7 linked regions of the Homo sapiens genome follow. The protein of the gene in region 1 purifies or fractionates together with the protein of each later gene. This does not show direct contact. Each region holds a gene or a part of one and is shown in the gene's direction. Other genes may lie near its edges. The genes, in order: LRRC31, MAGEC1, UGGT1, IPO5, PARP4, ITGB4 and KRT2.

Region 1 (4,216 bases):
GCTGTTTATTTCTATATGCAGCTCAATTCAGCTGGGGACAGTTTTATATGTTCACCTAGTGTTTCCTGTGGACAAATTGTGTGCATAATGCAAACAAGAAATTTGCATTATACTCAGATTGTTTCCTGACATTTCAATCTCATTGAAATAAACTTGTGTTTTCAAAACAAGTGTTATAGCAAAAATGATTGTAATTAGAAGATGGGGACAAAACATTGTGATTTTAATTCGCATTTCCCTAATGACCAATGATGTCAAACATCTTTTTATGTGTGTATTTTCATTTCTTAGCTCCTTTGGTGAAATGTCTGTTCTAAATCTTTTGCCTGATTTAAAAAATTGGATTGTTTGTTTTCTTATTGATGAGTTTGGAGAGTTTTTTAGATTTTTCTGAATACAAGTAAGTCCTTTATCAGAAATATAATTTGCTATTATTTTCTCTGGGTCTGTCCCACTGGCTTTTTCATTCTCTTGATAGTGTTTTTTTGCAGATCAAAGCTTTCAGTTTTGATAAAGATTTATCAATTTGTTAATTTGATGAATAGAGTTTTTTTGTGTTGCATCTTAGAGCGTTTTGCAAATCTAAGTTCTCAAAGATTTTTTCCATATTTTTGTCTTAAAGCTTTGTATTTGCATTTTATATTTTGACCTATTACCTATTTTGAGTTAATTTTTATATAAGGTATGAGGTATGGGTAGAGGTTAATATTTTTGCATATTACTGTCCAATTATTTGAGTGCCATTAACTGAAAAGACTATCCATTCTCCATTGATTTGCCTTTATATTTTTGTGAAAAATCAATTGGCCATATTTGTGATGGCCTACTTCTGGTCTCTCAGTTCTGTTCTATTGATCTCTGTGTCTCTTATTTTACCAATATCACGCTGTCTTGATTGCTGAAACTTTATAGTAAGTCTTGAAATGAAGTAGTATAAGTATTCTTTGTTTCTTTTTCAAAATTGTTTTGGTTATTCTAGTTACTTAGCATTTCCATTTAAAGCTAGCATCAGATTGTCAATATCTATTTTAAAAATCCATCTGGAAATTTTATTGGGATTACATTGAATTTATAGATCAATTCAGGGAGAAATGACATCTTAACAATATTGAGTATTCCAATCCATGAACACAGTCTATCTCTGTATTTAAGTACTCTTTGATTTCTTTCACTGGTGTTTTCTAGTTTTTATATTTTGTTAAATTTATATCTGAGTGTTTAATTTTTGTTCTCTTATAAAAGATACTGTTTAATTTTAGATTCCCAATGTTACGTGGATATATAATTGATTTTTGTATATTGACATTTTACTGCAAACTTGCTAAACTCATCTGTTAGCTGTAGGATATTTTTGGTAGATCCTGTAGGATTTTCTATATAGATAATCATATCATCTATGATTAGAGACAGGTTTTGTTTTGTTTTTTTTTTTTTTTTTTGAGATGGAGTCTCATTCTGTCACCAGGCTGGAGTGCAGTGGCATGATCTCGGCTCACCACAACTTCCGACTCCTGGGTTCAAGCGATTCTCCTGCCTCAGCCTGCTGAGTAGCTGGGACTACAGGCATGTGCCACCACTCCCAGCTAGTTTTTGTGTTTTTAATACAGACGGGGTTTCACCATGTTGGTCAGGATAGTCTCGATCTCCTGACCTCGTGATCTGCCTGCCTCAGCCTCCCAAAGTGCTGGGATTACAGGCGTGAGCCACTGTGCCCGGCCTAGAGACAGATTTATTTCTTTATCTCTGTGTATCTTTTCTTTCTTTTTCTTGGTTATTTAGCTGGCTAGATTTCCAATAGATGTTGAATGAGATGAGAGCATTCTTGCCTTGCTTCCAGTCTTAGTCCCCTAAGCTAAGGGGAAAAGCATTCCATTTTTCACCATTAAGTATGATGTTAGCTATAGGTTTTTTTGTAGCTACCCTTTATCAGGTTAAGGAATCCTAATTTGCTAAGAGTTCTTATAACGAATTTTGTCAAATTATATTTTTCTGCATCTATTGAGATGAGCATTTAAAAAAACTATAGTTCATTAATATTCATAATAATAATGAATGATAATAATTAATAATATTAGCTGATTTTTTAATGTTAAATCAGCCTGGTCATGGTCATTATGTATTATCTTGTTTATATAGCGTTGGATGTTATTTGCTAATATTCTGTTGAGGATATTTGTGCCTATGTTCACAAGGGGATAATAGTCTACTGGTTTTCTTATAATGTCTTTGTCTGGCTTTGTTATGAGGGTATAGGTAGCCTCATACAATGAGTTGGAAAGTGTTCCTTCCTCTTTTATTTTCCAGAAAGATTGTGTAAAATTGGTATTATTTATTGCTCAACTGTTTCACAGAATTCACCACTGAAGCCATCTAAACTTGGAATTTTCTTTGTGGGATATTTTAAATTACGAATTCAATTTAAAAAATAGAGATAGAAAAAAAATAGAGCTAGGACTATTCCAGTTGTCTATTTCTTCTTAAGCAAGTTCTGATAGTGTCTTTTAAGAAATTGGCCCATTTCATCTAGGTTGTTGAATTTATGGAAATAAAGTTGTTTCCTTGTTATCCTTTTACTGCCCATAGTGATACCACCTGTCTCATTCCTGATATTGATAATTTGTGTTTCTATCTCTTTATTCTTGGCTAGTCTGACCAAAGGTATTAGTTTTCTGTTGCTGTGTAACATGTTAATTTGTGGATTAAAACAATATCCATGTATTTGTTCACAGTTCTTTTTAAAAGCTTATATAAATGTGAGGGGCACCAGTGCAGTTTTGTTCCATGCGTATATTGTAGTGGTGAAGTCTGGGGTGCTGATGTAACCATCACCCAAATGAATAATGCATCATTAAGTAATTTCTCATCCCTCACCCGGCTCACAGTTCTGTAGGTAAGAAGTCTGACACAGCTTGTGTCGGTTCTCTGTGTAGGGTATTACAACACTAAAATCAAGGTGTCAGCCTGGCTGAGTTCTCATCTGAAGGCTCTAGGAATAAATCCACTTTCAAGCTCATTCTTGTTGACAGAGTCGAGGACCTTGCAGCTTTAGGACTGAGGGTCCCGTTTTCTTGCTAGCTCTCAGCTGGGGGCTGCTGTCAGCTACTAGAGGCCAGCCACATTCCTTGATACATGGCCCCTCATTTTCAAGACAGGAGTGGATTGTCCGTGCCTCTCACACTTTAAATCTCTCTGACTTCTGTGACTTCCTTCCTCTTCTGCCAGCAGTAGGAGGAAATTCTCTCTGCTTTTAAAGGGCTCATGTGATTAGGTTGACTCCATATGGATAATCTCCCTTTCTTAAAGTCAGGTGTGCCATATAGCCTAAGCTAATTCTGGGAGCAAAATCTACCACATTCAGTCCTGGGGATACAATGGAAATCTTAAGGTGGCTATTTAGAATTCTGACTACTGCAAGGGGTTTATTGATGTTGTGTCTTCTAAAAAATAAGCTTTTGATTTTTATTTATTTATTTCTCTGAATTAGACACCATTAAATATATTTAAGTTATTTTATTTAATGTTTATAATTAAAATTTGCTTCTTCATTTCGGTCTTTTTTATTTTTGTCTGCATCAAATTTTATTCACCATGTCTTCAGCCATTGTATATTTTTTCTTAATTTTTACTGACAGTTTTTTTCTCAGGTCAAATTTATACTTTTACATTTTATCAGGGTATATTTTCCTTCTTTGAATTTTTACTCAATAACAAGTATTACAGGCCAGGCATGGTGGCTCACGCCTGTAATCCCAGCACTTTGAGAGGACAAGGCAGGTGGATCACCTGAGGTCAGGAGTTCGAGACCAGCCTGGCCAACATGGTGAAACCCTGTCTCTACTAAAAGTACACAAATTAGCTGGGCATGGTGGCAGGTGCCTGTAATCCCAGCTACTCGAGAGGCTGAGGCAGGAGGATCACTTGAACCCGGGAGATGGAGGTTGCAGTGAGCTGAGATTGCGCCATTGCACTCCAGCCTGGGCAAGAGAGCAGACTCCATCTCAAAAAAACAAAAACAACAACAGCAACAAAAAACAAGTATTACTATATGTGGTTTTAGCAATTGTCACTTTTATATTTTTTCTAATAGAAACATTAAAAATTTGTTAATCACTAGCTTATATACATTTTAAAAATAATTAATGGCATTTATTTTTTCATACAGTAAACTATAAAGAGTATACCCATGGCCTACATTTCCCCTACCTAGATTTTTTAA
Region 2 (4,897 bases), on another chromosome or scaffold:
TAAACATACTTTATTCACATTTATTTCCTTGTCACGAAAGTCTATTTTCTGTCCCAAGATACCCTGAGGATACGCCATTACACTTGTTCATCATGTCTCTTTAAATGCCCTTTGGCTGTGCCAGTTCACTGAGACTTCTCTTGATTTTGAAAACATTGACAGTTTGGAGGTGTATGGTCAGGTATTTTGTAAAATAGCCTTTGATTGGGAATTAAGTGATTATTTTTTATGATTTGATGTAGGTTACGTTTTCTCGGAAGATGAACAGAGAAGTGAAGTGCCATTCTTATCATATCATACCGACGGCACATAATACCAACACAATTTGTCACTGATGATGTTACTTTGATCACCATGGTGACCTAGTGTTTGTCAGTTTTCTTCAGGGTAAAGTCACATTACTTTTTTCCCTGTGTCATACTGTCATCTTGGGAAGGATAGGAAGACCCAGGACCAGCCAGTAGTCAGATGAGGCCTCTGAGGGAAAACTGCAGAAACCTCCTGCCCACAAAGAAGAGGATCCACAGAAACCAGCTCCCCACCTGTTGTCATCCCTGGGAGGCCCAGGGGCATGTTGACCCACAGTGCTGTCCCCTGACGTCTTAGCGTGTAGAAAGAGGAGAAGGCTGTGCTTAGGTGAGTCTCACTTCAGATCATGAGAGCGGAAGATCAGGAGGGGGGCCTTCTAGGCATCCCCAGGCTGATACAGAGGATGGACTGGTGAGCTACCCCACCACGGACACAGGAGGATCCCCAAAAACCTGCCCGTTTTCACTGCTAGGAGGCCTTGGGCAGGGCCATTAGGGAGAGACGCTAGCGTGCTCCAGTCCCTCTTGGGGGGTTCATGGAAATGGGAACCTTGATCTGAAAAACAGTCCCTGGAGAGAAGAGGGAGGGAGTGGAGGCCGTATCAGGAATAATAGGTTGAGGAAGACTGAGGGTCCCTCCCATGCCATTTCAGACGGAGGGCAGTGGAGCCCTACCTGGAGTCTGGGAGGCCATACCCCACTGTGGATGGATGTGATTCTACCTCTCTTGCACCTTGCAGGTCTCAAGGATGGGAGGGGCTTATTCGGAGGTGAAAGACTCAGATGCATAGAGGCAGGGAGCCCAGACAATGTCAGGAGTCCAGGAACAGCCTCTCAGGAAGGCAGGAAGGGAACACCCATGACTGGTAGTGCTGCCTGTCCTGTCCCTGTGCCTGCTGCCAGCCATGGAGGAGCCCATCAGGGTCCCCAGATTTACAAATTTCTGACTTCCATTTTGGGAGTCAGCCAGAGGGGAGATTTTCTCTGAGGAGGGCAGCTTCAGTTAAACAGAGGGAGTAGCCCCAGGGCTGGCCACTCAACAAGAAGAGAACTCTGTCGAAGGACAGTGACCTCCGAACACGGGGGAGGCACAGGCTGCACCCTGCCACTCCCTGCTGTCAGCCCTGGAAAAAGGTGGGGTGTGAGTGTCAAGGACTGGGGAGGTGGGAGGGAAGAGGTCAGCAGGGCTTAGGGAGTGAGCAGAAAGGTTTGGAGCACATCCTGGAGGTGGGAAGGAAGGGATGGAAAGGAGGCTGACAAGCGGGCGGCGGGGGGGGGGCGCCTTCCTCCTCTGAGAGGAGGCCCCGCCCCACGCTATCCGGGCTGTCAGCCCTGATCAACCCTGACAGAGTTCCCGGATGTGCTTTGCCGGATGTGCTTTCCCGGCGGCCATCTTGGGAGTCTGAAGGACCTGAGGCATTTTGTGACGAGGATCGTCTCAGGTCAGCGGAGGGAGGAGACTTATAGACCTATCCAGTCTTCAAGGTGAGGGCCCCGAGGGAGAAGTGAGGGACAACCCCACCACAGAGAGAAGCAGCCCTGGCCTGCCCTATCCCTGCGGTGGCACTTGTAGGTGGCGGAAACGAAGATGGTAGCCGAGGGCTGAGGGACGTGTCCTCACGGCAGAAGAAGGGAGGAAATGCCGGCCCTCTAGAGAATAAATAGGAAGGCATTGAGGAGGACCGGGGGAACCCCCACCTCAGAGGACAGATTCCCAGAGATTCCCACCCTGCTCCTCAAATCAGCCCCCATAGAGCTCCCCAGGTGGCTGAGGCTGAGCGGCCACCCTCTCACTGCTGGGTGAGGGGTGTAGGGGAGGGGGAGGAGGAGGCCTTGTTCTGGGGGTCCCATGGCAAGTCAGCATGGGGAGCTGCCTCCAGTTGGCAGAGGGAAGATTCCCAGGCCCTGCTGGGAACAAGAGTGAGGACTGAGGGGTCACATGTGCGTCAGAACAGACGTGAGGCCACAGGGACCGCCCCCGTGGTAGAGTGCTGGGAGGTGGCTGCCACCTCACTACCTCCCACTGCTCTCAGTGATGTGGAGTTTTCCTGAGGTTTTTCCTCAGGCCAGCAGAGTGGTGGGGGCCTGGCCCTGTCTGAGAAAATGTGACAATGCTAATTGAATTCTGAGGGGGTCACGAACCTCAGAATTGTGGGACTCTGGGAGTCTGGCCAGCCCCAGCTGCCGTCTTAGCTGGAGGGGCTCCCTCCCTTCCTCTTGCAGGTGCTCCAGAAAGCAGGAGTTGAAGACCTGGGTGTGAGGGACACATACATCCTAAAAGCACCACAGCAGAGGAGGCCCAGGCAGTGCCAGGAGTCAAGGTGAGTGCACGACCTGACTGTGTACCAAGGGCCCTACCCCCAGAAACAGGGCAGACCTGGCAGCACCCGGCCTGTAGCCACCCACTGTCATTCCTGGTGCCTCAGGCTCTGCCTGCCAGCTGTGCCCCGAGGTGCTTTCTCGCGTCCTTCTACAGGTTCCCAGAAGACAAACCCCCTAGGAAGACAGGCGACCTGTGAGGCCCTAGAGCACCACCTTAAGAGAAGAAGAGCTGTAAGCCGGCCTTTGTCAGAGCCATCATGGGTGAGTTTCTCAGCTGAGGCCACTGGCACTGTCCCTCTCTCCCTCAGTCCTGTGGGATCCCATCATACCTATTCGTGTTCACACGTTTACCTGCTGCTCCTGAACAATATTCATCATGCCTCTCTTTCTAAACCTTCCACGCCCCAGCTTTGAGCAAGGCTTCCAGAAGGCAATTTTCATACTGGAGTTGGTAGATGCAGAGGATCCCCCAGATGAGGAAGAGGAGGAAGCTTCCTCCATTTTCTCTTCCTCTTTCCACTTTTTATTCCCCTCGTCCTCCTCCTGTTTTTCTTTCTCATCCTCATCCTCCTCTCTGCTTCTGCGTTCTCCAGGGGACAAGGATATGCCTACTGCTGGGATGCCGAGTCTTCTCCAGAGTTCCTCTGAGAGTCCTCAGAGTTGTCCTGAGGGGGAGGACTCCCAGTCTCCTCTCCAGATTCCCCAGAGTTCTCCTGAGAGCGACGACACCCTGTATCCTCTCCAGAGTCCTCAGAGTCGTTCTGAGGGGGAGGACTCCTCGGATCCTCTCCAGAGACCTCCTGAGGGGAAGGACTCCCAGTCTCCTCTCCAGATTCCCCAGAGTTCTCCTGAGGGCGACGACACCCAGTCTCCTCTCCAGAATTCTCAGAGTTCTCCTGAGGGGAAGGACTCCCTGTCTCCTCTAGAGATTTCTCAGAGCCCTCCTGAGGGTGAGGATGTCCAGTCTCCTCTGCAGAATCCTGCGAGTTCCTTCTTCTCCTCTGCTTTATTGAGTATTTTCCAGAGTTCCCCTGAGAGTACTCAAAGTCCTTTTGAGGGTTTTCCCCAGTCTGTTCTCCAGATTCCTGTGAGCGCCGCCTCCTCCTCCACTTTAGTGAGTATTTTCCAGAGTTCCCCTGAGAGTACTCAAAGTCCTTTTGAGGGTTTTCCCCAGTCTCCACTCCAGATTCCTGTGAGCCGCTCCTTCTCCTCCACTTTATTGAGTATTTTCCAGAGTTCCCCTGAGAGAACTCAGAGTACTTTTGAGGGTTTTGCCCAGTCTCCTCTCCAGATTCCTGTGAGCCCCTCCTCCTCCTCCACTTTACTGAGTCTTTTCCAGAGTTTCTCTGAGAGAACTCAGAGTACTTTTGAGGGTTTTGCCCAGTCTTCTCTCCAGATTCCTGTGAGCCCCTCCTTCTCCTCCACTTTAGTGAGTCTTTTCCAGAGTTCCCCTGAGAGAACTCAGAGTACTTTTGAGGGTTTTCCCCAGTCTCCTCTCCAGATTCCTGTGAGCTCCTCCTCCTCCTCCACTTTATTGAGTCTTTTCCAGAGTTCCCCTGAGAGAACTCACAGTACTTTTGAGGGTTTTCCCCAGTCTCTTCTCCAGATTCCTATGACCTCCTCCTTCTCCTCTACTTTATTGAGTATTTTCCAGAGTTCTCCTGAGAGTGCTCAAAGTACTTTTGAGGGTTTTCCCCAGTCTCCTCTCCAGATTCCTGGGAGCCCCTCCTTCTCCTCCACTTTACTGAGTCTTTTCCAGAGTTCCCCTGAGAGAACTCACAGTACTTTTGAGGGTTTTCCCCAGTCTCCTCTCCAGATTCCTATGACCTCCTCCTTCTCCTCTACTTTATTGAGTATTTTACAGAGTTCTCCTGAGAGTGCTCAAAGTGCTTTTGAGGGTTTTCCCCAGTCTCCTCTCCAGATTCCTGTGAGCTCCTCTTTCTCCTACACTTTATTGAGTCTTTTCCAGAGTTCCCCTGAGAGAACTCACAGTACTTTTGAGGGTTTTCCCCAGTCTCCTCTCCAGATTCCTGTGAGCTCCTCCTCCTCCTCCTCCACTTTATTGAGTCTTTTCCAGAGTTCCCCTGAGTGTACTCAAAGTACTTTTGAGGGTTTTCCCCAGTCTCCTCTCCAGATTCCTCAGAGTCCTCCTGAAGGGGAGAATACCCATTCTCCTCTCCAGATTGTTCCAAGTCTTCCTGAGTGGGAGGACTCCCTGTCTCCTCACTACTTTCCTCAGAGCCCTCCTCAGGGGGAGGACTCCCTAT
Region 3 (4,216 bases), on another chromosome or scaffold:
TGAAAATAGATTGCTCATGAGCTGACAGCCTTTTTCTTTTCTTTGGAAGTGCAACACTTATTCATGCATCACACGTTGATTCTTCCCTGAAGCACAGCTAAAGAGCAGATGATTTATTGGTGTGACTGGCCTTTATTGTACTAGTTTTTTTTTTTTTTTTTTTGAGACTCCTGCCCAGGCTGGAGTGCAGTGGTGTGATCTCAGCTCACTGCAACCTCCGCCTCCCAGGTTCAAGCAATTCTCCTGCCCCAGCCTCCTGAGTAGCTGGGATTACGGGCACCCACCACCATGCCCGGCTAATTTTTGTCCTTTTTTAGTAGAGATGGGGTTTCACCATGTTAGCCAGGCTGGTCTCGAACTCCTCACCTCAGTTGATCCACCTGCCGTGGTCTCCCGAAGTGCTGGGATTACAGGCGTGAGCCACCGCACCTGGTCTGTGCTAGAGTTTTTAATGTGTAGTTTTGGTTTTTTAAGAGTTGCATTGATTTGTTTACTGTGTTATTCACATTATAGTTGATTGATATTTCAGAAATAGAAGTAACTGTTCCTCAGAAATAACATTTTGGTGTTTTGAAGAGAGCTAACTGGACTTTTCTTCTTGTCCTAGGGCTACTTTCAGCTGAAAGCCAACCCAGGAGCTTGGATCCTCAGACTTAGGAAGGGACGCTCTGAAGATATTTATAGAATTTACAGGTAGGAGTAAGTGATGCAGTTACATTATCCCAGAACTTTTAGAAATGAGCATTAGCTCTAATTGAATACTACCCTGGCAGTTAGCCAGGCAACATGAATTTAATTTGCAGTTGTATGTGATGAAACAGTGGTTTTTCCAGGAAATTAAATATGGAAGAATTGTTAGAATAGAATTAGATAATAAGAGGTATAGATGCTAATGAGTATAGTCAGGCTTTATTCTTTAATTATTCCTTTGTGCTAACAATATCCCAGAATCAAATCATTCTATCAGTGTGATGCGGCTCATAGATAGGCAGATGAGAAACTTGAAGAAAGGAGAAAAGAAAGAAAGAACAGCCACACTTTTCTGCCCAGAGAGTGTATGTGTTGACCCTGAGTGATTTGCAAATGCACAGTACATGGAAGCTTTGGTCTTGAAGCTGTGCTGTTAGTGCTGGTATTCCTTGGTCTGTGGTGGCATAGTAAGAACATTCCCTCTATAGCCAGCTTTTACCTTAAGGTTTACTGCACATATTTATTAGTTTAAAAATAATTATGTTGCCTTTAAAAAAGTTTGATATAAATTCTGCTTAACACAATTTAAATTAGTTTTAAACTGTGTGAAGAGGCTTCCCGTCAGGTTGTGTAGGGGATGATTTCCATTAGGGCACATTTGAAGCACTCTGTAGTATGTCCTTGCCTTAATTAGCTCCGTAGCGACACACATGAAACAGTGGATTAGTGCCTGGTTCTTACCCAGGAAATAGAAGAATTCTGTATTATAATAACACCATTGTAAACAGTAGAAGGTTTTTTCCCACATAACATTTTCCTCAGATAAGGTTTTACAAAATTTGGGATGCACTTCCGAACTCCTTCCCTTTTGGATGCCCTGGCCCTTGCCAGCCCTCCCCTTCCCAGGAGCATGGTGCCCCCTCTTCCTAGCTGTTCAGGGCCCCACCCCCATTAGAATCTTCCTTTGCCTGAGAACCCTACTCTCTGCTAGATGACAGCAAATGCAGTGAATTCATGTTGTAATTATGACTTTCTGCACCTTGAAATTTGGTGACTGGAAATTTTAGGCATTGCTGTTGATTAGTAGGGAAACATACATTTAATTTTTCTTCCTCTGCTCCTGTCTGCCTGCAAATAGAATTTGTTACAGTTTTTCTGGTAGCGTATAGACACCAGGTTGAGTACAGGGCCTATTGTTGACTGATTGTTGCCTCCGGCAGAAAGAGCGAGCAGATTTCCTTTACAACACTATTCCAGTTAAAGAGTAGTGGCCGGGAGTGATGGGTGATGGCTCACGCCTGTAATCCCAACACTTTGGGAGGCCGAGGAGGGTGGATCACTTAAGGTCAGGAGTTTGAGACCAGCCTAGCCACTATGGTGAAACCCTGTCTCTACTAAAATACAAAAATTAGCCAGGCGTGGTGGTGGGTGCCTGTAAACTCAGCTACCTGAAGGCTGAAGCAGGAGAATCACTTGAACCCCGGAGGTGGAGGTTGCATTGAGCCGAGATTGCTCTACTGCACTCCAGGGCAACAGAGCAAAACTCTGTCTCAAAAAAAAAAAAAAAAAAAAAAAAGAGCGGAGGCAGTGTGGTTCCAATAATGGTTCAGGGGGCCTGTTCCCTGCATTCCTTTATCGAAGGCTCTGTGCTTGGCTCAGAGCTTGTGAACACAGGCGGTTGTTTAGTACTCACCATGTGGTTACCACACATGGGTGCCTCTCACTACGTGATGGGTAATTTGCAAGAGGACTCACAAAGGAGGTTTGGGCATGCACCTTATATAAAGAGAGGTTTCAACACGTGCTTCTGTGCAGCTCGAAGGAGCTTAAGGAGCAAGAAGATAGCTGGATCTGGAAAACTCCTTTATGAGAAGGATGATGGACTCAGATGCTCTGAGAGCATTTGCTGCCTTTTGAGAATTGTGCCTTGTAATATTGATCTTTCTTTTCTCGCAAAGCCACGATGGCACTGATTCTCCCCCTGATGCTGATGAGGTGGTTATCGTCCTCAACAACTTCAAAAGCAAAATTATTAAAGTGAAGGTGAGTTTGGTAAAAGTAGTGGCATTCTGTTATTGGACAGCTGTCATTTAAAAATATGTATCTTGGAACCAGCCCAAGAGTCTCTTTGGAATTTGCTATGGCAATTATAGGGATACTGCTTTAAGGCAAAATGTCTTTGTAACTGTGAGTTTGTGGCTTCCCTCAACTGAAAGATTGTACCTTTTGGGTAATCTCGGTGTGCAGAACATGTCCCATCTTATATAAAATATTCTCATAGATGCTATGTTGTTTATATAGCCACAATTCATAGTGTTGTTGATGATTCTTTTCTCAATATTGGGGGAACTGGCAATGGAAATTTTCAACAATAATAAAATGATAGTCCTATTTAATTTCTTTTGACTTGTACTTTCCGTTCTCTGAATGTTGAAGCTCTTAGTGCCTTAAATTCAAGTACAGTATATTCTTGAAGAAAGAATCATTACACACAGTGAAACCTAAAATAGGCCATCCATTGTTGAGAAGAAAAATGGTCACTGTACTGCCAAGAAGAAACCCCTGTTTGTGCTAGTGAATCCTGAAAACTGGTCATAACATGAAATACCTCCCTCCCAACAGCTAGAGCCCCCAGCAGCCACACTCTTCCCTGGAACTAGCTGTTGACTCATTGAATCGTGCTTCTGGTTTCACTGCACAGTTGAGTTTGCGGCTCTTTGCCTATGTTGCAAGCTGAAAATGGGGTTCATCTAATTAAAAGAGGTTGCTGTCTCCTCACATAAGGTTATGATGTGAATGTCCTGGCGAAGATACTTCTATTGAATCCTTCTAGACTCTGGGTGGGGTTGTGCCTGTTTGTGAGAGAATTGATTGATAATTCCCTATTGATGACAGGCTCACAGTGTATATCCAGTGAGAGGCAGTTTTATGCCTGTGAGACATACTGGGAGTAAGGTTTATCACATTTGATTGCAGGTTCAGAAGAAGGCAGATATGGTGAACGAAGACTTGCTGAGTGATGGAACGAGTGAGAATGAATCTGGATTTTGGGATTCCTTCAAATGGTAAGTTGACATTGTAAGAGTTATGTTTTTAAGGAAAAACTGAGATATAAGCACCATCCATCCCTCCTTTTTGCATCTTGTGATTCTGTCTGGGCCTTTCACATTCTACTTTGTGCAGCTACATCTCACACTTATATTTGGCATAGATGAGTATTTTCCACTCGATTGATCCAAAAGAGGTTCATGTCTCCTAGTGGGGAAGTTACTTCTGCTCCATACTTTGTGACTCTCATTGCCTGTACCTGCTCTTTGGAAATTTGACTGCTCCCTGCTCAGTTTACTTCCCGTTGTGTAAGTTGCATTCTGGTGCAGCCTGTGTTCAGTCTCTTCCTAAAACAACACTGTCGGAGAGTGAACATTCTTTTTGTAGGTTGGTTTTGTCAGTCTTGTGGTCTCTCCAGGGTGTGAGGGAAGCTTCATAACCACTCCTGCTGCAGCTCACCCGCTAGGGAAGGATGGGA
Region 4 (4,216 bases), on another chromosome or scaffold:
TATGCAAATATACATGTATGTTTTGTATGTACAGAGATAACAGGCAGGAGGGATACTTAGCAGACTGCTGACAGTAGGGAGACTGAGGGGACTGTAAGCTGTAGGGAGGGGTGGTAAGGACGAGGCGTGTTGCTCACCTTTGTATCAGCCAGCATATAGTTTAATGCCTGGCATGTGAGAAACACCCAGTACCTATCTGAAGAGCGGGTGGACTTTTACATATAAAATCATTAAGAGGTGGGGCATGTGTCCATGCATGCTCAATAGATAAATAGGTAGGTGGATGACAGATATCAGGGGATAAGAATCACTTTCTAGGTTGCAGGGGTGGTGAATGGAACCAGATTCTCTAGGTAATTTGCAGATGATAAAGTCTGTGTAAACACAGTAATAGGAGAAGAGGTGTTTTAAATATACTCAGCCACTTATGAGAAAATTATAACAGCTAAGAGAAAAGGATGTTTTGTTTCTTGGGTTTTAATAAATGTTTAATGAATGGAGTGGCAGGCAATAGGGATACAGAGTCAGATAAAATACATTTCTGTCTTCAAAAAATTTGTAACTGGGAGTTGATGAAGTGTTTGGTTTTGTTTAGGTGATTAGTTTCATTTAGATGATTCAGATGCTAAGAAAGAAAACCATTATCACTTACTGAAAGTAGAAAGAAATACCCAAGGTTCTGGTCTTTGTGTTTTGCCTCACCTGCTGTCCATATCCCAGTGTAGTGAGTTCACAGGGATTTCATTATTGATTCTGAACCTTTTAAGTACATAACCTTTAGAAATGCTCTTACTGCTTAAAGTACTGTGAACATATCAATAAAACATTGTTTCTATGAAATAAGGAAATGGCTTTCTTTATCACGTTTACCCATTGTTTTTTAATCTATTTTAATTTTAAAATTTTTCCCCAGATCTCTTACATGATCTCAGCATGGGCCAGAATGTGCAAAATCCTTGGAAAAGAATTTCAGCAATACCTTCCAGTGGTTATGGGGCCTTTAATGAAGACGGCTTCAATTAAGCCCGAAGTAGCCCTTTTAGATAGTAGGTGTCTTTAGAAGGAGCTATCGGTTATAATAGTTCTCTCTTTGTTATTATTTTTCATATGCATTTGTTTTCTTCTCCGTTAATAGCCCAAGACATGGAGAATATGAGTGATGATGATGGTTGGGAATTTGTGAACCTTGGAGATCAGCAAAGCTTTGGTATTAAAACTGCAGGACTAGAAGAAAAATCAACTGCTTGCCAGATGTTGGTAAGAGAGCACTGTTTTTACTAAACTTTTATTTTACATCTTATATACATTTCATATGAGTGCTTTTAATAGCTGCTAAAGAAATTACTTTGGAGAGCCAGTAATATGTTCCTTAAAAAGTAAAGTTTTCTTTCCATTTTAAAGAAATCGTATGGATAAACCTTTCATTATCAGTGCTGTTTTAAATAGCAAAAAACAACAAATAGCCCAAATTCCTGTTAGTGGGAAGATGAATTACTGTGCCTTGGAGTAATATACAGCCATTACAAAAAGTTTATAAGCTACATGAGGGAAGGATTTTTGTTGGTTTTGTTCTTAGTCTATAGTAGGTGGCCATGGAATGTTTTTTAAACAAATGAACAGAAGTGTGTTCATGCTATTTAATGTGAAACAAAACTTGTATGATTTCAATTGTGTAAAAAAACAGATATGGCAGGAAAATCAAAATGTTCGGTTATTATCCCTTATGGTGTTTGTGGTGTGCATATGCATGTTTAGTTCCTAGTTTTCTTTTTGTTTTCTTTATGAGCATGCGTTTTAAAGTGAAGGATAATCCTTTTTTTTTTTTTTTTTTGAGGTGGAGTCTCTCTTTTTCACCCAGGCTGGAGTGCAGTGGCACGATCTCGACTCACTGCAACCTCCACCTCTGGCGTTCAGTTGATTCTCCTGCCTCAGCCTCCCGAGTAGCTGGGATTACAGGCGCCTGCCACCACAGCTGGCTACTTTTTGTATTTTTAGTAGAGATGAGGTTTCACCATTTTGGCCAGGCTGGTTTCCAACTCCTGACCTCAGGTGATCCGCCTGCCATGACCTGGGATTACAGGCATGAGCCACTGCACCTGGCCAATACTTACTTTTAAAGTTAGATTTTAGAAATTAATGTATTTCTTATTGTCATCTTCAATACTTAGTATCTATAAATTATAAACACTTTGGATTTTTGTGGGTTTTTTCTCTCAACTGGAAAGCAAATACAAATAATAACATCTTTAAACAGAATTAATCTTTAGATGTAGTAGAAGAGAATGAAACAATTGGGTTTTTGGGGTTTTTTTTGTTTGTTTGTTTGTTTGTTTTGCTTTTTGAAACAGAGTCTTACTCTGTCGCTCAGGCTGGAGTACAGTGGCTTGATCTCAGCTCACTGCAGCCTCCGTCTCCTGGGTTCAAGTGATTCTCCTGCCTTAACCTCCCGAGTAGCTAGGATTACAGGTGCACGCCACCATGCCTGGCTAATTTTTTGTATCTTTAGTAGAGACGGGTTTTCACCATGTTGGCCAGGCTGGTCTTGAACTCCTGACCTCGTGATCCGTCTAACTCTGTCAGCCAGGCTGGAGTATAGTGGTGCCATCCCGGCTCACTGCCACCTCCACCTCCTGGGTTCAAGCGATTCTCCTGCCTCAGCCTCCCAAGTACCTGGCATTACAGGTGCCCGCCACCATGCCTGGCTAATTTTTGTATTTTTAGTAGAGACGGGGTTTCACTGTGTTGGCCAGGCTGGTCTCGAACTCCTGACCTCGTGATCTACCAGCCTCAGCCTCCCAAAGTGCTGGGATTACAAGCATGAGCCACCGTGCCCAGCCATGATTTTTTAAAAATACAAAATAACAGAAGCGTTTTCTACAGATTTACAAAGTAAATGCTTCAATTAACTGATGGTTTCAGGGTTTTTTGTATCTTTTAGAATGATTTTTCCTCAATTAAGTGATACATTTTGTTTGATGTATTGCTGAAACTTGCTGAATGGAATACGAATGATTCCAGCCTTTGAAGGGACAATATATACGACAATAATTTCCTTTTTTTTTTTCTTTTTGTCACTCACCAATACTACAATCATTTCATGACCCTTCTTTTAAGACTCTTTTTAGTTGGAAGACTAATTTGACAGTTCTACATGCAACTTTAAATGTAGTTCTAGTCAAAATACAACCTCCTGTGGTCCTTATGATTTTGCTGTTTGTTAATATTAATGCTTGAAGACTAACATGAATCTTTATTTCCTCCCAATACTTTGGTTACAGGTTTGCTATGCTAAGGAGTTAAAGGAAGGCTTTGTGGAGTACACCGAACAGGTTGTCAAACTGATGGTCCCTTTACTGAAATTTTATTTCCACGATGATATCCTACAACTTCTGAATACAAAACATGTCTAGATTTAGTAAACTTGTAGTTTCTTGGAGTATTAGACAGTGTTGACTGAAGTAGACTTCACCATGATTGTTTGTATTTGCACTAAGTGTACTCTTAGGTGATAAACTCGGTTCTCTGCATGTGCCTTTGTTTCCACTTGTGCCAAAACATGAAAAAGAAAACGTGACCTATCCTATGTTTGTCAGCTTTCTGTGGCCCACTTAAGGATTTAAGGATAATTAGCAAATGATTACAATTATATATAGTTGCTACTTTCCCCAAATATCTTTTGGTAAACGTTAAGAAAATAAGACTTTTATTTTAAGAGATGGTGTCTCACTCTGTCACCTAGGCTGGAGTGCAGTGGCGTGATCAGGACGCACTGAAACCACAACTTCCCAAGTAGCTGGGACCCAGGTGCACAACACCAAGCCCAGCTAGATTTGATTTTTTTTTTTTTTTTTTTTTTTTTTAAGAGATAAGGTCTGCCTATGTTGCCCAGGCTGGTCTCAAACTCCTGGGCTCAAGCAGTCCTCCTGCCTTGGCCCCACAAAGTTATGGGATTACACACCTGAGCACTGTGCCTGGCAAGACCTGTCTTAATAGATTAGAGAACCACTGATAGATGGTCAGCTTTCTGTAGCAGTGAGAACCCTACATTTCAAATGTGGATAGCACCTTTGCGGGGAAACATCACTTGGCACATCTGCATTCTTTTTTGACACAGGGTCTCACTCTGTTGCCCAGGCTAGAGTGCATGGCACGATCTTAGCTCACTGCAACCTCCACCTCCCAAGTTCAAGCGATTCTTCTGCCTCAGCCTCCTGAG
Region 5 (4,216 bases), on another chromosome or scaffold:
GGGTGAAGCCAGCTGGGCTCCTGAGTCTAGTGGGGACTTGGAGAACTTTATGTCTAGCTAAGGGATTGTCAATACACCAGTCAGCACTCTGTGTCTAGCTCAAGGTTTGTAAACACACCAATCAACACCCTGTGTCTAGCTCAAGGTTTGTAAATGCACCAATCAGTGCTCTGTGTCTAGCTAATCTAGTGGGGACCTGGAGAACTTGTGTCTAGCTCAGGGATTGTAAACACCAATCAGCACCCTGTCAAAGCAGTCCAATCAGCGCTCTATAAAATGAACCAATCAGCAGGATGTGGGTGGGGCCACATAAGGGAATAAAAGCAGGCTGCCCGAGCTAGCAGTGGCAACCTGCTGGGGTCCTCTTCCACGCTGTGGAAGCTTTGTTTTTCACTCCTTGCAGTAAATTTTGTTGCTGCTCACTGTTTGGGTCCGCACTGCCTTTAAATCGCGGAGGTCTGCAGCTTCACTCCTGAAGCCAGCGACACCACGAACCCACCGGTAGGAGTAAACAACTCCGGACAAACTCTGGATGCGCCGCCTTAAAGAACTGTAACGCTCACTGCGAGGGTCTGCGGCTTCATACTTGATGTCAGTGAGACCAAGGAAGGAACAAACTTCGGACGCGCCGCCTTTAAGAACTGTAGCACTCACCACGAGGGTCCAGGCAGCTTCGTTTTTGAAGTCAGTGAGACCAAGAACCCACAAATTCCAGACACAGCACTAGGTAGGGTGGGGCCTCTGGCCTGTAGGAGTGGGAGGTGAAAGGGCAGGCAAAGGGGAAATGGCGGAGCCCAATCGCGGTGCAGGGCGGTGGGCTTTCAGCAACTCAGCTTAGTCCCAAGACGCGTGGGCCGCGGCAGAGAACCTGACCTGCCTGCCCAAGCTAACACAGGACCCGGAACCGCGATCCTCAAACTAATACAGGACTTGGAAACTGCTGTCGCCAAATGGCAGCTTACTTTGCGGGGAGCCTGTTAGACGTGACTCCTTGTTTTTAAAAATTGACAAATACCAGTCTGGGCAACATAGCGAAACCCTGTCTTTACTAAAAATGAAAAATATTAGCCGGGCGTGGTGGCGCGGGCCTGTAATCCCAGCTACTCGGGAGGCTGAGGCAGGAGAATTGCTTGAACCCAGCGTTAGCACAAACTGCAACATTTTGTAAGCTGCCCGCTATTTTGCAGACTTTGGGCAAAGTGAAACATTTCTGGGGGGTTTAGGCGGTGAGAAACATCCTTCCTAACCACTTGACCGCAAGGCCAACAGAGGCTTATCTGAAGAAACTTCCCTCTCATGACTTCTTGGGCAAACGTCCAAGGAACACCATGATGACATCCACCTGAATAAGGGCCAGAACCCTTATTGTACAAATCAATACAAATCATGGGAACATCTTATCGATATCTTGCAGGGCAACAAGCCATGCTGCCCAGACCCCTCCCGCCCATACCTATAAGTACCCTTAGCCTGTAAGACTTAGCAGTGGGCTGTGGCATTAGGCTGGTCCCCTACTTCTGTAGGTTTTGTGCTGCACATAAAGCCGCATTTGCTGTCAAGCTCGCGCTCTCTAGCTCTGTCTCCTCTCTCTTTCTTTCTCCTCTGTGTGTGTGTGTGTGTCTTTCTTTAACCCTCACCTTCTCTTCCCGGAAGGCAGAGATTGCAGTGGGCAGAGATTACAGTGAGCTGAGATCTGCTACTGCACTCCAGCCTGGGTGACAGAGTGAGACCCTGACTCAAAAAAAAAAAAAAAAAAGCGGGGGTGTGCCAGGTGCGGTGGCTCATGCCTGTAATCCCACAATTTTGGGAGGCCAAGGTGGGCAGATCACTTGAGGTCAGGAGTTCAAGACCAGCCTGGCCAACATGGTAAAACCCCCGACTCTACTAAAAATACAAAAGTTAGCCAGGTGTCATGGTGGGCGCCTGTAATCTCAGCTACTTGGGAGACCGAGGCAGGAGAATCAATTGAATCCAGGAGGTGGAGGTTGCAGTAAGCCAAAATTGCAATAGTGCACTCCAGCGTGGGTGACAGAGCAAGATTGTCTCAAAAAAAAAATTTTACAAAATGGAAATTAAACACAATTTTTCACCATGTATTAATTTATTGTTAAATACACATTTCGATGCAAAATTGAGAATGTGTTGTACAGTAAATTAATTAAATTAACCCAGGCTGGGTGTGGTGGCTCACACCTGTAATCACAGCACTTTGGGAGGCTGGGTTTGAGCCCAGCCTGGTCAACATGGTGAAACCTTTGTCTCTACTAAAAATATAAAAAGTAGCCACGTGTGGTGGTGCGCGCATGTAGTCCCAGCTACTCGGGAGGCTGAGGCAGGGGAATCGCTTGAACCAGGGAGGCGGAGGTTGCAGTGAGCTGAGATCGCACCACTGCACTCCAGCTTGGGTGACAGAGTGAGATTCCGTCTCCAAAAAAAAAAAAAAAAAAAAAAAGAACCTAAATGCAGAATATATATGTGTATACACACACATACATATTCCATTTAAACATAGTTGTATATTTTTATTATCAGCTGTTCAGTTTTTCCCCAGAATGGCCTAATAGAAGTCCACATAAAGAGTCTTTTTGAATGCATAGAATTATATATTAAAGAAACCCATGGTTTCACTATCAAATAATGTTAATTTCTAATTTAGAAATAAATGGTTCCATGTTCTGGAGTCACACACTTGATCTGTAACTTAAATCTGTCATGTTTTTATTAAGATGTATATCATGAGCCTGTACAAAGGGATTTTTGGTGGTGTAATATCAACCATAAAAGCTAGAAACGATTCTTAAACCAACACACATATTGCAAGCTAGGATATTATTCAATTTTTGCAATGTTCTATTGATAACATGATTGCAATATCTTTCTTAAGATAATGCCCAATTTTCCCACAGTTTGCTTGTATAATAATTCTAAATTCACTGTCATATTGACTTAAGAGAGGGTCCTTAAAAACTTTTTTTCCTACAGGATGGTGATGGGAATCTTTGCAAATTGTATCTTCTGTTTGAAAGTGAAGTACTTACCTCAGCAGCAGAAGAAAAAGCTACAAACTGACATTAAGGAAAATGGCGGAAAGTTTTCCTTTTCGTTAAATCCTCAGGTATTTCCAAGTGTCATAAACTACAGTGTGATAAAACATTGCGCATTCAGGGAACAGGGTCATGGTTAGAAGAGGAAGCAGAGATTAGCAGCAGGAGAGAGTGAGTGAGCTACTCGAAGTTCATCAGGAGAGACTGACATGGCCCATTGGGAGGCTGGGCTCCTAGAGGCAGAGGTGGCCCAGCCCTGTCCCCTCCCTGTTCCCTGAACTGCAGGACAATCCTACATGTCCTGTGAAGCAGGATATTACTAGAGCACAGCCAAATATGAAAATAGAATTTCAGACCAGCCATATCTATTCTTGAAGGAGAAAAGTCATAGTGCACAGGATTTGCAAAAAGCGCACTGTCGTCACTCACCAGTATGTCAACGCTGGGGTGATATACTGGTAAGCCAGGTTCCTGGGTGTAGAAAGAAATACATGCAGTGCAGACTCATCTTCGCAGTGTAGCTTGTGCTGTTTGTTTTGTTCATTTAAAGGCTGCAGGAATTTACCTTCTGCCTCTTGAACTTGTAAGCCTGGCAGTTCAGAATAATAGGATTTTACAGCTGGATGAAATCTTAGAAATAATTCAGTTTAACCTCCTCTTTTTTAAACCACCTCACTGTAAAAATAGAAATCCAAAGGCTCTAGGTGCCAGGCTGGCCTGCCCCTGTCCTCTGCTGTTCCCTCTGTTGACGAATTGATGAGCTGACTCACCCTGCCCCTCCCTGGACCTCAGCCCTGGGGCTTGGCCATTGTGAGCCTCATCTGTTCTGTGAAGCGTGTTCAACTCCAGCTGAATACCAGAAATGCAATGTCCCTGTTTACTTCCAATTCAGGTAGAATTGTATATACTTCCCTTATACAGCTTCCCACACTGAGCTGTCTCACCATCTCTGGACAGATGAGTAATTCGTGCCTGCTCTCCCTTCTCAGTTTGTCTTCTGTGTGAACTGCCAACATGGTCTCTCCTTTTTAGAAAGTCACATACTGTGAGTGCAACTTTGTGGAAGTCAATGTACATAAACATGTGAAATGTGCATCCCAGCTACTGTAGATAATGAGGCAGCTGTATATGTAATGTTGAGGAACAATCACCAAGATAATTTCAGTGGAAAA
Region 6 (3,646 bases), on another chromosome or scaffold:
CCTGAGCCCACACGTGCCCCACCGCGTGCTAAGCACATCCTCCACCCTCACACGGGACTACAACTCACTGACCCGCTCAGAACACTCACACTCGACCACACTGCCCAGGGACTACTCCACCCTCACCTCCGTCTCCTCCCACGGTGAGTGACCTCAGCCAACCCTGCCTCTCCCACTAACCCTTCCTCTCTTCCAGCTCCTGGAGCCTCGGGCTTCTGTCTGCTGTCCCCACCGCCCATTCTCCAACATACACACACGCATGCACACATGCACGCACACACGTGCACACGCATGCACACATGTACACAGACATGCATGCGCACACGTACACACATGCATGCACACTCCCTGCTCCTCTCACTCTTGTTTTGTCCTGCCCTAGGCCTCCCTCCCATCTGGGAACACGGGAGGAGCAGGCTTCCGCTGTCCTGGGCCCTGGGGTCCCGGAGTCGGGCTCAGATGAAAGGGTTCCCCCCTTCCAGGGGCCCACGAGACTCTATAATCCTGGCTGGGAGGCCAGCAGCGCCCTCCTGGGGCCCAGGTAGTACAGGGGTGGCCATCCTGTCTCCACAGCTGTCCTGCTCCATCTGTCATCCAGCCACCATAGCAGCCGCCAGCTGTGCCCACTGCTTCCCCTCCATTCCATCCACAGGACCCCCGCCTGCCCACAGGCGCTAACCACCTGCCCTACCATCAGTGCTGATGCCTAACTCTGCCTCTGCCCTCCCAGGGGGCGGGGCTGGGGCTGGGGCAGGAGAGGGGCCAGGCCAGCTGAGCAGTTGAGGGGGTGGGGCTGGCAGACTCACGGGGCTCACTCTCTTTTGGCACAAGCAGGGCCTGCACCCTGCTGGAGGATGTGCGGTAGGTGCTGGGCAGCCTGGACAGGGTGTTGCAGGGTGAGTGAGTTGTCCAGCCAGCGGTCAGTGTAGACATGCCAGCTGAGGGAGGGAGGTCAGGGGGCAGCACTGTGACTCCCACTGAGACCCTAGCCCCTGCATCTCTGGCTGACTGCGGCCTCCTGTCCCCAGACTCTCGCCTGACTGCTGGTGTGCCCGACACGCCCACCCGCCTGGTGTTCTCTGCCCTGGGGCCCACATCTCTCAGAGTGAGCTGGCAGGAGCCGCGGTGCGAGCGGCCGCTGCAGGGCTACAGTGTGGAGTACCAGCTGCTGAACGGCGGTGAGGCATGGTGGCTGCCAGGCTGCGGGGTGCAGCCCTGCAAGGCCTGGCCCCAGTGTGACACATAGGGTACCTCAGCTGTGTCAGGAACCCACCCAAGTCCCTTGAGCGCTAAAGCCCCCATCCAGCCTGAGAGGGTCTCCCACCCCATTCTCCACCCCACTTCTTTGCCTCCCCTCTTCTGAGGTCTCACCCACCTCCCTGGGCCTCTCTCCTGGTCATTCTCTGCTAGGTTTTGCCTAACAAGGCCCCTTTGGGCTGGGATCCTAGGGCCTCTGCTGGCCTGAGATGCCTTTGGGGGAACAAGGAAGTGGCACTTCCCTGGGCAGGCACATTCAAAGCAGCATGACCAGGATGCAGGATGTTGCCTAAACATGAGTGGGATTACAGGCTCCACTCTTGTATAGTACACAATCTGAACAACCAGCCATACCATACTGTACCCAACCTGTACCCAAACCACAGCTAGTCCTGGGTGGGTGATAACTAGGTCTCGATGGCAGCTTAGGGACGAGGAGGATCAGGCCAGGGGTGGGAGTAACACTGCACTACTGTGTGCCCCCACCTGATCCCCCCAGGTGAGCTGCATCGGCTCAACATCCCCAACCCTGCCCAGACCTCGGTGGTGGTGGAAGACCTCCTGCCCAACCACTCCTACGTGTTCCGCGTGCGGGCCCAGAGCCAGGAAGGCTGGGGCCGAGAGCGTGAGGGTGTCATCACCATTGAATCCCAGGTGCACCCGCAGAGCCCACTGTGTCCCCTGCCAGGTGAGTTGCCTCCCCCAGCCCCAGAGCTGCCCCCATCATGCCCACCACCCACCCACAGGCTGATGCTCTTCCTCTACTGCCCCCAGGCTCCGCCTTCACTTTGAGCACTCCCAGTGCCCCAGGCCCGCTGGTGTTCACTGCCCTGAGCCCAGACTCGCTGCAGCTGAGCTGGGAGCGGCCACGGAGGCCCAATGGGGATATCGTCGGCTACCTGGTGACCTGTGAGATGGCCCAAGGAGGAGGTGCTGCCCACCCCGGGGGCAGGAGTGGCCAGGGGAGGGGTAAAGAGGGGGCCGCAGACGCTGAAGGCATCTTCCCTGCTCAGGGCCAGCCACCGCATTCCGGGTGGATGGAGACAGCCCCGAGAGCCGGCTGACCGTGCCGGGCCTCAGCGAGAACGTGCCCTACAAGTTCAAGGTGCAGGCCAGGACCACTGAGGGCTTCGGGCCAGAGCGCGAGGGCATCATCACCATAGAGTCCCAGGATGGAGGTAGGCACCTGTCCTTTCCTTCACCCCCACCCCTCCTCGGGCCGTGCCTCCTTCTGGCACCACCCTCTGACTGGCCTATCTGCCCACCCCAGGACCCTTCCCGCAGCTGGGCAGCCGTGCCGGGCTCTTCCAGCACCCGCTGCAAAGCGAGTACAGCAGCATCACCACCACCCACACCAGCGCCACCGAGCCCTTCCTAGTGGGTGAGCACTGAGGGCTAGGGGATCCCGGCTCTCCTGGGACAGGGAGCTAGCAGAGGGAGAAGGGCAGACCCCAAGCCAGGTCATCTAATGCCTCCTCCTCCACAGATGGGCTGACCCTGGGGGCCCAGCACCTGGAGGCAGGCGGCTCCCTCACCCGGCATGTGACCCAGGAGTTTGTGAGCCGGACACTGACCACCAGCGGAACCCTTAGCACCCACATGGACCAACAGTTCTTCCAAACTTGACCGCACCCTGCCCCACCCCCGCCACGTCCCACTAGGCGTCCTCCCGACTCCTCTCCCGGAGCCTCCTCAGCTACTCCATCCTTGCACCCCTGGGGGCCCAGCCCACCCGCATGCACAGAGCAGGGGCTAGGTGTCTCCTGGGAGGCATGAAGGGGGCAAGGTCCGTCCTCTGTGGGCCCAAACCTATTTGTAACCAAAGAGCTGGGAGCAGCACAAGGACCCAGCCTTTGTTCTGCACTTAATAAATGGTTTTGCTACTGCTAGGCCCTGCCTTGCCCATTCTTCTGGGGCCTGAGAGGTGCTCCCCTAGGGTAGGGGAGCGGTTCTGACATCCCCCATTCTCTGACACCCAAGCATACACCCACCTCTAGAGGAGGCAGGTACCACATTGGAGGCACAAGTTTATTGAGCACCCGGATATGGAAGATGGCACCGGGCACAGAGCCGTGGGACTGGCCTGCAGGCCCCGCACCCTCACCGTGTGCTGTCCTGGGGGTGCCTCACAAGCACAGCACCTTGGCTCCATCGGCTGCTTGAGAGAGGTAGAAGGTGGCAGTCCCGCCGTAGTGCTCCTGTAAGAGGCGGGCTGGGGGTGAGTGGCAGGGCCCCGGGAAGCTGCCGCTCCTGCCCGCCCAGGCCCTGGTGCCCGCCCACCTGGATGTGCCGCATGGCGTGGGGAGCAGCGGAGGCCTCCAGCAGTGTCACCGTGCAGCCACCGAAGCCACCGCCCGTCATGCGGCTGCCATAAACCCCAGGCACAGCA
Region 7 (3,293 bases), on another chromosome or scaffold:
TGGGGAAATTTCGGAGAGGTGAGATGGACAGACGGGATGAGAGAGCTGAGGACTGTGGAAACCCACAAAGAACATCGTATCCTGTTGTAGAAACACACAGTGTCTCAAGCAGGAGAGAGGGGCTGGTTGGCAAAGCTTGGTCATCTCGAGGCTCTGATGGTCCTGAGGGCTGTGAGCCATGGACGTAGGCATGAAGTCCCTGGCAGAGGTGTATGGTAAACTGCACGACAAAAGAAGTCCCATGGGGACAGGGATCAGGTTGGGGAGCCTGGGATTTTAGAGAGGAGCCAGCAGGGACTGAGTAGAGGGGAGTGGCAGAGAGAGGAAGAGGCCTGTACAGGGAACCATACACCAGAGGCCTCAACCTTTCTTGCAGGACGTGGACAATGCCTACATGATAAAGGTGGAGTTGCAGTCCAAGGTGGACCTGCTGAACCAGGAAATTGAGTTTCTGAAAGTTCTCTATGATGCGGTAAGGAGGCTGCTCCGGGACAGTCCCTTACTTCCCACCCTTCTCACCAAATGAAAGTCCTTTCTGCTTGGTGAAAAAGTGGCAGAAGTGGGGTTTATGGACCAGCTGACTTCAATCTGCCATCATTCCAGGCCACTGGGGGGGCTTTCATAGCATAGGTCTTGTGGGTGAGGAATTTTCTCCTCCGATGTTATGGGAATAAGGTTCAGGAAACACCAGGACAGCTTCCCCTCCCTCCATTCCCCAGATGTCCATTTCCCCTGGGGAAGAGACAAGCCCTGTGCCCATTCCTGTGCCTACTGTACTTCAGAGGTCAAAATGCATTTGTCTCCTATCCCCCTCCCCAACCCAAGGGTGCACAGATGATTTCTGAAACAGGAAGTCCATTTAAGGTATTTGCCATGGACAAGCTTCTGTCTGGGGGCACTTACCATAACTGGCTTAAGTGCTGAATGTTAACTAGGAGGCTCAGAAATACAGGTGCCTCTCACTACAATTCTCAGGACAACCTTGGGAGAGGCCCAGGAGTAGACGGTTACATGATTTTCATCCCACCTAGTGTATGCTTAGTCTGAGGGTCTGCGTTTCCCTTATGCTGGGAGACAGAGGCCTCCTGTCTGCCTGTAGCTATGGCAGGATGTCATGACCAGACCTTCCTGTGTGTTGTAGGAGATATCCCAGATACATCAGAGTGTCACTGACACCAACGTCATCCTCTCCATGGACAACAGCCGCAACCTGGACTTGGATAGCATCATCGCCGAGGTCAAGGCCCAGTATGAGGAGATCGCCCAGAGGAGCAAGGAAGAAGCGGAGGCCCTGTACCACAGCAAGGCAAGTAGAGGGAATGTAGGAAGAGCCACAGCTCCCTGCCATGAGCTGGGTTGCACCCCCAGCTGGAAAGTGTACAGTAAGGTTATTGGTTTTTTGTTTAATGGTAGTTGGGCACCATTCCCAAGAAAGGATGTTGAGAATGGCACCAAGTCCTTTTGGGCATGTGAGACAGTCCCTACCTCTCATGAATGCAGCCATGACATTTAGCTGGGTTGACCCTCCCTGGACCAGTAACCAGCTCTCCTTCACTCCAGTCAGTCTGGAATGTGAGCCAGGCTGGAACTTCCTTGCAAACTGTCCTCTTCTCCCCATATCAGTATGAGGAGCTCCAGGTGACTGTCGGGAGACATGGAGACAGCCTGAAAGAGATCAAGATAGAGATCAGCGAGCTGAACCGCGTGATCCAGAGGCTGCAGGGGGAGATCGCACATGTGAAGAAGCAGGTGAGGCCCAGCCCTGTCCAGCGAGGGGCGGGAGGTTGTCTCTGGGTGTGCGTGAGAGTGTGGTTGTGTGTGAGTGTGCATGTGAGAGATGAGAGACACTGAGATATTGCACTCTAGCATGTATCGATCCCAAATTCCCCAGCTTAACATAATTTATGGCTTATTATAACAATTCTTAGAGTGCTCTAATAGACATTCCAAAGTAAGGATTATCGAAGGGAAAGAATTGTGCTCACTTGTTTATATGAGGAAAAGGGAGTCATAACAAATAGAGCAAACGTTAGTTTGATTGATTTGCTGCAGATTGCCGATGGAGCTTCCCGTTTGTGCTCAGCACAGGCCCTGAGCACCAGCCGACTGGTTTCATAGAGGGGCAGTGAGTATTGAGGGCAGCTGGCCTGGGGCTGGACGTTAGCTTTGGAATAGAAAAGGTAGAGGCAGAGAGTGGATTCCATCAGCAGCAGAAGCTTTGCCAAGCAGACCATTTCAAATGTTTTCATTTCCATCTGTAAAATGGGATCATGATTCAGGCCCTGTGATGTGAGGATCAAAGGGCACTATGGGGAAAGCCAAAGGGTGTCATCAACGGTGACATGGGAAGAAGATGTGCCAGAGACAGCGGCAAGTCTTAGCACAGTTGTTTGCGACTAAACTCCAGAGGGGACCTAACACTCCCAGGGCCAGTGGTTCTGGCTTCCTGCACTTCGAACACCTCTGCTCTCTGTCCGCCTCCGTCAGGCAGAATCCATTCTCTGTCCTTCTGTCATAGTGTAAGAATGTGCAAGATGCCATCGCAGATGCCGAGCAGCGTGGGGAGCATGCCCTCAAGGATGCCAGGAACAAGTTGAATGACCTGGAGGAGGCCCTGCAGCAGGCCAAGGAGGACTTGGCGCGGCTGCTGCGTGACTACCAGGAGCTGATGAACGTGAAGCTGGCCCTAGATGTGGAGATCGCCACCTACCGCAAACTGCTGGAGGGCGAGGAGTGCAGGTGAGGGCACTGGGAAGGGAGAAGGGGACCCTGGCCCTTCCTCTCATCTCTCCCAGAGCCAGGGCTGGAGGCAAAGACAGGGAAAGCAGAGAATGGGGCAGGCCCTCCTGACAACTGAGAACTGACATTCTCTGTGTTCCCCAAGCAGAAACTCAGGACATAAAGCATGATTGGAGAGTTACACATTTATCAACATGAAATGATGCATAAGGCACATTAAATTAAACTAAGCAGTAAGTTAAACATCCTGGTCTTTTCTGAAAGAGAAAACAAAATCATGGGAAAACAGGTTAGTCCTAGACAGTCTGAAACTTTGGTCTCTAGGTCCATAGGGTGAGTGGCTTCTGTGCCCTCCACCGGGTGACCCAGAATGGGGGAGATGATGTCTCGGAATGTGCTGACTGGTGGGGACGTGCTGACCGGAGCAGGTGCCAGCCCCAGTTCTTTGCAGGTTTCTGGAGTGACAAATGGAACCATTTGCTAACTTTCAAAGAGGCACCCTTTGCTTCCTCTGTAGTCTGAGACCTTTGTCCGTATTATCAGCATCTTGGGTG

The links.
Region 2: the proteins of LRRC31 (region 1) and MAGEC1 purify together in Homo sapiens (affinity purification with mass spectrometry, with the first as the bait; one large-scale study listed by BioGRID). This does not show direct contact.
Region 3: the proteins of LRRC31 (region 1) and UGGT1 purify together in Homo sapiens (affinity purification with mass spectrometry, with the first as the bait; one large-scale study listed by BioGRID). This does not show direct contact.
Region 4: the proteins of LRRC31 (region 1) and IPO5 purify together in Homo sapiens (affinity purification with mass spectrometry, with the first as the bait; one large-scale study listed by BioGRID). This does not show direct contact.
Region 5: the proteins of LRRC31 (region 1) and PARP4 purify together in Homo sapiens (affinity purification with mass spectrometry, with the first as the bait; one large-scale study listed by BioGRID). This does not show direct contact.
Region 6: the proteins of LRRC31 (region 1) and ITGB4 purify together in Homo sapiens (affinity purification with mass spectrometry, with the first as the bait; one large-scale study listed by BioGRID). This does not show direct contact.
Region 7: the proteins of LRRC31 (region 1) and KRT2 purify together in Homo sapiens (affinity purification with mass spectrometry, with the first as the bait; one large-scale study listed by BioGRID). This does not show direct contact.

The regions. Positions count from the first base shown.
Region 1 is NC_000003.12:169,842,154-169,846,369, reverse strand, and holds part of LRRC31 (leucine-rich repeat-containing protein 31), read left to right. Parts: intron 1-4,216.
Region 2 is NC_000023.11:141,902,186-141,907,082, forward strand, and holds the start of MAGEC1 (melanoma-associated antigen C1), read left to right. Parts: upstream 1-1,708; 5' UTR 1,709-1,793; intron 1,794-2,531; 5' UTR 2,532-2,629; intron 2,630-2,784; 5' UTR 2,785-2,887; coding exon 2,888-2,891; intron 2,892-3,223; coding exon 3,224-4,897.
Region 3 is NC_000002.12:128,174,166-128,178,381, forward strand, and holds part of UGGT1 (UDP-glucose:glycoprotein glucosyltransferase 1 precursor), read left to right. Parts: intron 1-607; coding exon 608-693; intron 694-2,648; coding exon 2,649-2,733; intron 2,734-3,666; coding exon 3,667-3,755; intron 3,756-4,216. UniProt on the Homo sapiens protein: Recognizes glycoproteins with minor folding defects. Reglucosylates single N-glycans near the misfolded part of the protein, thus providing quality control for protein folding in the endoplasmic reticulum.
Region 4 is NC_000013.11:98,008,968-98,013,183, forward strand, and holds part of IPO5 (importin-5), read left to right. Parts: intron 1-913; coding exon 914-1,046; intron 1,047-1,135; coding exon 1,136-1,257; intron 1,258-3,278; coding exon 3,279-3,375; intron 3,376-4,216. UniProt on the Homo sapiens protein: Functions in nuclear protein import as nuclear transport receptor. Serves as receptor for nuclear localization signals (NLS) in cargo substrates.
Region 5 is NC_000013.11:24,502,544-24,506,759, reverse strand, and holds part of PARP4 (protein mono-ADP-ribosyltransferase PARP4), read left to right. Parts: intron 1-2,982; 5' UTR 2,983-2,983; coding exon 2,984-3,115; intron 3,116-3,473; exon of another isoform or gene 3,474-3,605; intron 3,606-4,216. UniProt on the Homo sapiens protein: Mono-ADP-ribosyltransferase that mediates mono-ADP-ribosylation of target proteins.
Region 6 is NC_000017.11:75,754,673-75,758,318, forward strand, and holds the end of ITGB4 (integrin beta-4 isoform 1 precursor), read left to right. Parts: coding exon 1-143; intron 144-382; coding exon of another isoform or gene 383-541; intron 542-1,028; coding exon 1,029-1,178; intron 1,179-1,756; coding exon 1,757-1,945; intron 1,946-2,031; coding exon 2,032-2,187; intron 2,188-2,270; coding exon 2,271-2,435; intron 2,436-2,527; coding exon 2,528-2,638; coding exon of another isoform or gene 2,639-2,649; exon of another isoform or gene 2,650-2,743; coding exon 2,744-2,883; 3' UTR 2,884-3,146; downstream 3,147-3,646. Other genes in the region: GALK1 (galactokinase), read right to left, coding at 3,384-3,455, 3,538-3,646. UniProt on the Homo sapiens protein: Integrin alpha-6/beta-4 is a receptor for laminin. Plays a critical structural role in the hemidesmosome of epithelial cells. Is required for the regulation of keratinocyte polarity and motility.
Region 7 is NC_000012.12:52,646,186-52,649,478, reverse strand, and holds part of KRT2 (keratin, type II cytoskeletal 2 epidermal), read left to right. Parts: intron 1-376; coding exon 377-472; intron 473-1,141; coding exon 1,142-1,306; intron 1,307-1,623; coding exon 1,624-1,749; intron 1,750-2,518; coding exon 2,519-2,739; intron 2,740-3,293.